Linked DNA regions of Homo sapiens: region 1 is linked to region 2. The links come from fine-mapping of genetic effects on gene expression. A gene starts in region 2. The other region holds a variant in brackets. All regions are shown on one strand. Distances are between the middles of the regions.

Region 1 (5,260 bases), 78 kb before region 2:
TCTGATCAGGCATACTGGCTCACGCCAGTAATCCCAGAACATTGGGAGGCCAAGGCGAGCAGATTGTCCGAGCTCAGGAATTCGAGACCAGCCTTGGCAACATGGCAAAACCCCAACTCTACCAAAAAGACTAAAAATTAGCTGGGTATGGTGGCGCACGCCTGTAATCCCAGCTGCTTGGAAGGCTGATGTGGGATGATTGATTCAGCCTGGGAGGTCGAGGCTGCAGTGAGGTTGAGGCACAGTGAGATCTTCAGCCTGGGTGACAGAAGGATACCCTGTCTCAAAAAAAAAAAAATAGGGAGTTTCAACTTGTCATTCTGTAGAAAGTCTTAGAGGTGCTAAAATTTCATGATTCTATACCTCTTGTTACCTTAGCAACAAATTACTGCCTAAAAGTTTGGGGACTCTTCAGTATCAACTTCTGCAGTCTAACTGTATATCAGAAATCCTGGAGAGCTTTTTAGAAATGCGGATTCCTGGATCTCACCCCACATCTGCGTAATGAAAATCTCTATGGTTGAGGCCTACACATCTGTTGTTTGTTTGTTTGTTTGTTTGTTTGAGACGGAGTCTTGCTTTGTTGCCCAGGCCGGAGTGCAATGGCATGATCTTGGCTCACTGCAACCTCCACCTCCCAGATTCAGGCAATTCTCCTGCCTCAGCTGCCAAGTAGCTGGGATTACAGGCGTCCACCACCATGCCCAGCTAAATTTTTTTGTATTTTTTAGTAGAGACAGGGTTTCACCACGTTGGTCAGGCTGGTCTCGAACTCCTGACTTCAGGTGATCCACCTGCCTCGGCCTCCCAAAGTGCTGGGATTACAGGAGTGAGCCACCATGCCCGGCCCCAGATCTGTTTTTTGAAGTTCACATCAGGTAATTCTGGAACTCACAACTTGACTGACACTGGACCTGAATTTAGAAATTGGAAATGTTTGATGATCAAGTGTTGCCGATCTAAACCTTATTGAATTCATTCAGTTCTGCAGTTCTTATTGGCAAGTACCTCTGCTTTCCATTTTACATTAGCCAGATGGCAAGATGAACTTACTCTATTATACTTACAAGCCAGCCAGTGATATTCAAAGACTAGCATCCATCCATCCAGATATCACATTTCTTTATCTTCCACATCATCCTGCTCTGCTCTGCCTAAAAAATAATTCCCAAAATCTTTAATAGTGATAATTTGAACAAGATACAAAATGAAATTGTATAATTAAAGAGAGAAGACTAAATCCTTTGGTTAAACATGTCATTTGCCTATTTCTACAATACAGGTTAGCAGCTCCTGCAATAGTCTCATATTCATATGTGTGTGTGTGTGTATATATATATATATATATATATATATAATATGTAGTTTTGTATATCTTGCAAAAAGTTTGAGCTACATCCTTTTAAGCAATAGAATGTTATTGAAAAATGTAGGCGCAATCAGATTTGCATTTTAGAAGAATCACTCTGACAGAATAGAGAATAAATTGGAAGTAGGAAGCCTTGTCAGTAACTCAGATGAGTGAAGATGAGAGTCTTTACAGGGTGATTGCTTTTTTTTGAGACAGTGTCTCACTCTGTCACCCAGTCTGTAGTGCAGTGGCACAGTCTCTGCTCACTGCAACCTCCACCTCCCAGGCTCAAGTGATTCTCGTGCCTTAGCCTCCTGAGTAACTGGAATTACAGGCATGTGCCACCACACCCAGCTAATTTTTTTATATTTTAAGTAGAGACAGGGTTTCGCCATGTTGGCTAGGCTGGTCTGGAAGCCCAGCCTCAAGCAATCCACCTGCCTTGCCCTCTCAAAGTGCTGGGATTACAGGCATGAGCCACCGCAGCTGGCCCTGATTACATTTTATTTGAGACATCTTAATGGAAGACTAGAGAGCTTGAGTGATAATTCCTCATCTCTTTGGATTCTAAAATCCAAAAGCCTGTTAGAAAACAAATGATTTTTTTTAACTGATTGGAGGCT[G/A]TTGAGAATGGGCAAAACCTGACCTAAACTGACACAAAGCTATTATGATCTTTATCCCAATTAGTAGATGTTTAGCTCTAAAATGTTACTGCATTTGATTAGAGTGTTGTTCCCCTGTAAACTGAGATAAGGTACCCAGTTAACATTCCAAAATCTCAAAATTCTAAAACGTACCTGGTTTATCTTTATGTTTCAGATGGACTTATTTCACAGTCATGTATGTAATCTTACTGATATTCAGATCTTAAGGGTGAAGAAGGCCGGGCGTGGCGCCTCACGCCTATAATCCTAGCACTTTGGGAGGCTGAGGCGGGTGGATTGCCTGAGGTCAGAAGTTCAAGACCAGCCTGACCAACATGGCAGAACCCCATTGCTACTGAAAATCCAAAAATTTTAGCCGGGCCTGGTGGCGCATGCCTGTAATCCCAGCTACTCGGGACGCTGAGGAAGGAGAATCACTTGAACCCGGGAGGTGGAGATTGCAGTGATCTGAGATCGTGCCACTGCACTCCAGCCTGGTGTGATGGGAGCGAGGCTCCATCTCAAAAAAAAAAAAGAGAGGAGGAAAGGATAAATATAACTCACTAGTAAAGTGGAGATTTCAGTAGCAGTTGGATATATGAGTCTGGAATTTGGGGAGAGTTGTTACATGTAGATAGTAGTTGAAGCCATAGGAGTCAAATCACTATATTTACCTCTCTGCTATTACTACATCATTTTAAACTTTTCCTGTCTCCCCATTATATTGGGAGGTCCTTAAAGACAAGAATTTTATAATACACATCTTGCCAGCACATAGCATAACGACTGCCACATTGTAGATAAGCAACGTGTTTATAGAATGAATTAATAGTTAAATTAATGCATTTTTTCTTTTCATATAACCATAAATTTTATTGCTAGAAAACATACCCCAGAAATCATCCCATCTGAGCTCTTTCTTTAGGTCTTTGATACTTTTTTTGTTGTTGTTGTTGTTGAGAGAGGGCCTCACTCTGTTGCTCAGGCTGGAGTGCAGAGGCACAAACATGGCTTACTGCAGCCTCAACCTCCTGGGCTCGTGCTGTCTTCCTGCCTTACCTTGCAAGTAGCTGGGCCCACAACTATGCCCAGCTAATTTTTTGATTTTTTGTGTGTGTGGAGACAGGGTCTCACTTTGTTGTGCGGGCTTGTCTCAAACTCCTAAGCTCAAGTAATCCTCCTGCCTCAGCCTCCCAGAGTGCTGGCATTACATGTGTGACCCACCATGCCCAGCCCTATGACCCATTTTGAGTTCATTTTGTTTATAGTGCAAGGGATTGGGGTACAACTTTATTATTTTGCTTGTGGATATCCATTGTCTGAGCAACATTTGTTGAAAAGAGTGTTCTTTTTCCATTGAATTGTCTTGGTGTCCTTTCTGAAAATCAACTGACCATAAATTCAATGGTTTATTCTTGACTCTCACTTTCATCTCATTTTTGTATATGTCTGTCGTTATGCCAGTACTACACATTTAATTACTATAGCTTTGTAATAAGTTTTATTTATTTATTTATTTATTTTTTGAGATGGAGTCTCGCTCTGTCGCCCAGGTTGGAGTGCAGTGGTGCCATCTCAGCTCACTGCAACCTCTGCCTCCCAGATTCAAACAATTCTCCTGCCAAGGCCCCCCGAGTAGCTGGGATTACAGGTGCCTGCCACCATGCCCAGCTAATTTTTTTTTTATTTTTAGTAGAGACAGGGTTTCACCATGTTGGCCAGGCTGGTCTCAAACTCCTGACCTCAGGGTGATCTGCCCAACTTGGCCTCCCAAAGTGCTGGGATTACAGGCATGAGCCACTGCGCCTGGCCTGTAATAAGTCTTAAAATCAGGAAGCGTGTGTATTCTTTCTAAACAAATGAAGAAACTAAAGCCACAGAGCCTAAAGTTAAGTAAGAAAACTAGTAGAGTCAGAAGTAGACCTAAGTTAGCCTCATTCACAGTACCTTTCTTTTTTAATATCTTGTAGTACAGGTAGACCATCCCTAATACAAAATCTGAAATGCTCCAAAATCCAAAACTTTTTTAAATAGAGACAGAGTCTTGCTATGTTGCCCAGGCTGGTCTGAAGCTCTTGGGCTCAAGCAATCCTCCTGTCTCAGCTTCCCAAAGTGCTGGGATTACAGGCATGAGCTGCCACTCATGGCCAGTGAGCATCTTTTCTTACACTTATTGATCCTATAGTTTTTCTTCTTGAATGCCTATTCTTGTCTTTTGACCTTCTTTTAATTGTCTGTCCTTTTCTTACTGATTCATAAGATTTCTTTACGTGTCCTTTGTCTTTTATATGTGCTGTAGATATCTTCTCCATATTTGTTCTATTATTATTTTTTTCACTTTGTGATATCTTTTGTTAAATATGTTTTTTTCATTTTATGTTTTATGCTGTCTGAATTTTATTCAACTCAGCAAATATTTGTTGAACACCTGCTATGCACCATTCTAGGCACTGGAGATATAACACTGAACAAAATAAACAAAAATCCCTGCCTTTGTGAAGCTTACCATCCTACTTGAGAAAGGAAAAGAGAAAGAATAAAGAATTACATGAACAAGGCTAGGTGCAATGGGTCATGCCTGTAATATACTTTGGGAGGCTGAGGTGGGCTCATTGCTTGAGCCCAGAAGTTCAAGAACAGCCTGGGCAACATGGCAAAACCCTGTCTCTACAAACAATGCAAAAATTAGCTGGGCATGGTGGCGCCTGTAGTCTCAGCTACTTGAGAGCTGAGATCAAGGATCAATTGCTTGAGCCCAGGAGGCAGAGGTTGCAATGAGCCGAGATCATGCCACTGCACTCCAGCTGAGGTGGACACAAGCAAGTCCTCATCTCTCAAAAAAATAAAAAGAATTACATGAATGAAATACAAAGTGGGTCAAAAGCGATAGTTATGGCGAAGAAGAAAAGAAAAAAAAGACGGGGAAGATGTGAATAGGCAGTGTGGGGATAGGGAGGGGTGTTATTTTAGTAAAATGGTTAGGAAAGGCCTAACTTAGAAGATGACATTTGAGCAATAGCTTTAAGGAGGTATTTGGGCATAGGGCCCAAGTTCTAAGAAACTGATATGGGAGCAAGCTTGATATGTTCAAGAAACATCAAGTATGGATTAACTGGAATAAGTGGGCTTGGCGTGTAGCAGTAGATTAGGTCAGCAATGTAATGGGACAAGATTCTTTAGGACTTTGTAGACCATTGTAAGAATTTTTGCTTTTCCTCTTGAGCAAGATGGGAAACCACTGGAGGGTTTTGAGTGGAGTAACATA
Region 2 (5,501 bases):
TATATAGGAACCCAGGAATTTATACAGAAGAGAATTCTAGGCTTGGCTGAGAAGACATGTGGAAATGAAACTTTGTATTTAGAACTTTGTAGGATAATGAGCAGATAATGTGTTTTCTCCTTCTAGTTCAGAGTCCCAAATGCATATTCAGCAACTTGAGTCTAGAATTCAATCTCCAGTAACTTTCTGTGTAATCCTGATGTGACTTCCTAGAATTAGACTGTCAGAGGCCACACCGCAGGCTGAAGGTCACTAATTCCAAAGCACAGAGTCATTCGACACCTGGGATCTGGGCTTTTCCCCTATAACACACTGCTTATTTATTTTATTTTATTTTATTTATTTATTTATTTATTTATTTTTGAGATGGAGTCTCGCTCTGTCGCCCAGGCTGGAGTGCAGTGGTGCGATCTTAGCTCACTGCAACCTCCGCCTCCTGGGTTCACGCCATTCTCCTGCCTCAGCCACCCAAATAGCTGGGAATACAGGCACCCGCCACCACGCCCAGCTGATTTTTTTTGTATTTTTTTAGTAGAGACGGGGTTTCACCGTGTTAGCCAGGATGGTCTCAATCTCCTGACCTCGTGATCCACCTGCCTCGGCCTCCCAAAGTGCTGGGATTACAGGCGTGAGCCACCACGCCTGGCCTGACAGGCTGCTTATTTCTGTCTCTGTACCCCAGTTCCCCCATATGGGTAGCTGCAAGATCTCACACGGTATCAACAGGCAGCAAGAGGGTTTTGATCTAAGCCAGCACAGCAACAAAATATATCTTATGATGAGGCACAAAGGAACATGAGGATGAAAACAAAGTGGCTGGAGAAAGTAAACAAGGGATCCCACCCCACATTTTAGAAGGAGAGAGGGCAATCACCAAAACCAGACTCAAAGCTGGAATGGGATCTTCATAATAACAACAATGAAATCCCTTCAACCTCAAAGACAAATGCCTATGGATTGCAGGAAGTAAAACATTCCTCCAAGAACAGGTATTGGAAATGACAAACATCAGAGCTGATTAGAAACCACCATGTTTACAGGAATGTTGGACCTATCCAGAAGGAGATTATTAAGAAGGCAGGGCCAGGAAGTGGTAAACATATCTCTGGATTTAGGGCTTTAGGTCTATGCAGTCAGAGCATTGCTTTTCCTAAGCACTCAATGTGCAAAAGGCAGCAGGTCATAGGTCATGAGTCAGGGGAAAGGGAGTCACTCAAGGCAGGATTAAAGGATGCTAGAAACACATCCAAAGCCGAAGATCTGGGGTGGGGAGCCCATGGTCTGATTAGGGAGGCTAAAGAAAGAGTAATGAAGGCAATGGGTTTGAGCTGCACCATGAAGGACAGATACACTCTTCTTCAATGAGTGACAATGCAGGATGATTTTTAAAACGAGAATGATACAGCCGGATGCGGTGGCTCATGCCTGTAATCCCAGAGTTTTGGGAGGCCAAGGGGGGGCAAATCACCTGAGGTCAGGAGTTCGAGACTAGCCTGACCAACATGGAGAACCCTCGTCTCTATTAAAAATACAAAATTAGCCAGGCATGATGGTGCATGCCTGTAATCCCTGCTACTCGGAACGCTGAGCCGAGAGAATTGCTTGAACCCAGGTGACGGAGGTTGCAGTGAGCTGAGATTATGCCATTGCACTCCAGCCTGGGCAACAAGAGTGAAACTCCATCACAAAAAAAAAAAAAAAAAAAAAGAAGAGAGAGAATGATAGGAGCGTGAAAAAGAAAAGCCTTCTACTAGTGATTAAAGAAAGCTGCAGGTTTCAAGAATTCATTTGTAGCATTTTAAAGATACATTAAGCCCATTCCTACTTTCCACATTCATATCATCCTGTTTTGTTTTCTTCAAACCAATTATCATTGTAAAACATTAGTTTGTTAGTTTCCTTATTTGTTTCCTATTGTTGCCTTGAAGTAGAGTGACCATACCAACCAATTTGCTCAGAAGTTCCCAGTGTATGCCTGCCATCTGGCATAATTTTACTCTGAAGTATGTTCTGGTTTGAGCAATATATTGTAAGGATGTTTTACACATAACCCACCAAGAAATTAACTTAGCTTTTAAAAAATAATTTTTCACTTTTTTTTTTTTCTTTTTGGAGACGGGGTCTCCCTATGTTGCCTAAGCTGGCTGGCTGAGAGCTCCTGGGCTCAAGCGATCCTCCCACCTCAGCCTCCCAAGTAGCTGCAACTACAGTCATGCGCCACTACCCCTGGTTAATTCTTTACTTGTTTTATACTAATACGGACATGGTTTTAAACAATCCTTAATTCAAGTAATGACGAATGCATACTGCTACCCCTTTTCTACTTCCCTTCCTTTTTTAGAATTTAAACTTTAAGACTCAGCCTATACTTTTTACAGATATCACTTGATTTTTAAAAAAATATTATTTATGCTTTATTCACTAATACACTCCCAGCCACACAGCCAAACTAGCTGCTTCGTATACTGGGAAAGCAATTCCCAACTGCCACCCTGACATATTCAACTATAAAGTCCCCAGAAACAGGACATAGATTTTAGAAGGAAGGCTGCTCTAAGAAGTTAGAATTGATGACTGAACAACTGTATGTACTTAGTGGGCAATAAATTAAACAACTCGTTTGGCTCAAAGGCCTTCAGCAAATAGCCCTTCAGCTAGTAAAATAACTGCTGGGTTCTGCTGAGTGATTTTCTAAGAATATCATAAACAAGGAGCAACTTGGCATGACCAGTCATAATGGAATGTGCTTACTGAACAACCCAGGCATAATTTGGTTCTGAAGAACAAAAGAACCATAAACCAATCTCATCCTGGCACCCACCCTAAATGATCTCTGGGCATGTACCTTTCAGATCTCCGTTCCCATCCTTGTTACTGTCCTTGAAAGACCTTGGGTAGATCTGGTACATGGGCCCCTCCTGCCACCAGTCTAGGCACTTTGGAGAGAGGGCAATGATGGCTATGGTGGCCGCGATGAGCACCAGCACAGAAGCCACTGTGAGCCAGAAGAGGATCTCCCGAGGTATGCGGTAGCGGGCCTGGCCAGAGAACTGGAACAGCACCTCCTTGGGCATCCCCGCATAGGGCTGGACGCCCTTGAAGTCGGGCTCCTGGGAGCCAAGGATGCCCCTGGTGCTGTGCTTCAGGTTGTCTGTTGAGCTTCCTGGATCCGGGGTCTGCTCCAGAATGTCTTCATTATGGACAAACCCGTTGTTTGTCTGGCATCCCTTCATACTCATCTCGATGGAGTCTCTCTTGCTTTTATCTTCAGCCATGTCTCACCGACTTATGTCTTCGGAGTGCCTTCCTGCAGTAAGGGAGGTGGAAGAGTGGCTTGCTGAATGCTTGGTCTTGTTAATGAACTTTGTGTGGTTTATAAATAAACCTAGCTGGACAAAGTCCAGCCAAGGAAGAAAGGGTAAAAGTACAGAGGTTTAAAAAAAAAATCTCGGGACTGGCGCGGTGGTTCATGCCTGTAATCCCAGCACTTTGGGAGGCCGAGGCGGGCAGATCACCAAGGGCAGGAGTTTGAGACTAGCCTGGCCAACATGGCCAAACCCCGTCTCTACTAAAGGTATAAAAATTAGCCAGGCGTGGTGGTGTGCACCTGTAATCCCAGCTGCTCGGGAGGCTGAGGCAGGAGAATCGTTTGACCCCGGAAGACAGACGTTGCAGTGAGCCGAGATCGTACCACTGCACTCCAGCCTGGGCGACAAGAGCGAGAATCCATCCCACAAAAAAAAAAAAAATCTCCACTGGGCATCTTGGCTCACACCTGTAATCCCAGCAGTTTGGGAGGCTGAGGCAGGCAGGTCACCCGAGGTCAAGAGTTTAAGACCAGCCTGGCCAACATGGTGAAACCCCGTCTCTACTAAAAATACAAAAATTAGCCGGGCGTGGTGGTGCATGCCTGTAATCCCAGCTACTCAGGAGGCTGAGGCAGGAGAATCACTTGAACCCAGGAGGCAGAGGTTGCAGTGAGCTGACATCGAGCCATGGCACTCCACCCTGGGTGACAGAGGGAGACTCTGTCTCAAAAAATAAAATAAATAAATAAGAAAGAAAATAAAAATAAAATGAAACTAAAAATAAATTAAAAAATTAAAAATTGGAAACAACCCAGGTAGCTATCATCAGATGGATAGATAAACAATGTGGTTATACATATAGTGAAATATTATTCAGCTTTGAAAAGGAATGAAGGCTGGGCATGGTGGATCACGCCTGTAATCCCAACACTTTGGGAGGACAAGGCGGGTGGATCACTTGAGGTCAGGAATTGGAGACCAGCCTGGCCAACATGGCAAAACCCATCTCTATTAAAAATACAAAAATTAGGCCAGGCGCGGTGGCTCACGCCTGTAATCTCAATACTTTAGGAGGCCGAGGCCAGTGAATCACCTGAGGTTGGGAGTTCAAGACCAGCCTGACCAACATGGAGAAACCCCGTCTCTACTAAAAATACAAAATTAGCCAGGTGTGGTGGCGCATGCCTGTAGTCCCAGCTACTTGGGAGGCTGAGGCAGGAGAATCGGTTGAACCTGGAAGGCGGAGGTTGCGGTGAATGGAGATCACGCCATTGCGGTCCAGCCTGGGCAACAAGAGTGAAACTCCATCTCAAAAAAAAAAAAAAAAAAAATAGCTGGGCATGGGGACATATGCTGTAATTCCAGCTACTTGGGAGGCTGAGGCAGGAGAATCGCTTGAACCCAGGAGGCAGAAGTTGCAATGAGCTGAGATAGCACCACTGCACTCCAGCTTGGGTGATGGAGTGAGACTGTCTCCAATACATAAATAAAGGACTGAAATTCTGACACATGCTGCAACATAGATGAACCTGGAGGACATTATGCTAAGTGCAATAAGCCAGACCCAAAAGGGCAAGTGTGATTTCACTTAGATGAGGTATCTTGAGTAGTAGGATTCATAGGAACAGAAAATAGAAACGTGGTTACTGGAGGTTGGAGGAAGGGAATAATGGGGAGTTATTGTTCATTGGGCAGAGAATTTCAGTTTGGGATGATGAAAAGTATTCCTGAGATGATAGTGGTGATGGTTGCATAACAGTATAAACATACGTAATGCCACTGAAATGTTACAGATGTTTTACCACAACTTTTTTTAAAGCTTAAAGCTTTCTCTATTTAGCCAGGTATAAGAAAAATGACTTTGGGGGGAAATTATTTTTCTTATACATGGTTAAATAGAGAAAGTGGGAAGATAGCTTAAGCCCAGGAGTTGGAGACCAGCCTGGACAATATAGTAACACCTCATCTCTACAAAAGAAATTTAAAATTAGCTGAACATGGTGGTGCACCCATGTAGTCCCAATTACTCAGGAGGCAGGCTGATGTGGGAGGATCACTTGAGCCCAGGAGGCAGAGGTTGCAGTGAGCTGAGATGAGCCGAGGAGACAGAGGTTGCAGTGAGCTGAGATCACGCCACTGCACTCCAGCCTGGGTGACAGAGCAAGATTCTGTCTCAACAACAACAAAAAGGAA

What was found. PIP is the estimated chance that this variant, and not a neighbour inherited with it, causes the effect. A credible set is the group of variants that fine-mapping cannot tell apart.
Region 1: its variant is the best candidate, but not a certain one, in a credible set for the expression of SLC3A1 in cerebellum (GTEx, PIP 0.52).

What each region holds. Positions count from the first base shown.
Region 1 is chr2:44,351,849-44,357,108 of GRCh38, reverse strand. All of the region lies in intron 1 of PREPL (prolyl endopeptidase like), which reads left to right. Among named protein-coding and RNA genes, the nearest start is that of PREPL, 7.0 kb to the left of the region's middle. The variant G/A (reference allele first, on the strand shown) is at 1,975.
Region 2 is chr2:44,273,310-44,278,810 of GRCh38, reverse strand. It overlaps SLC3A1 (solute carrier family 3 member 1), which reads right to left and starts at 3,331. Exons shown (of 10, transcript NM_000341.4): 1 at 2,846-3,331. The coding sequence starts at 3,275.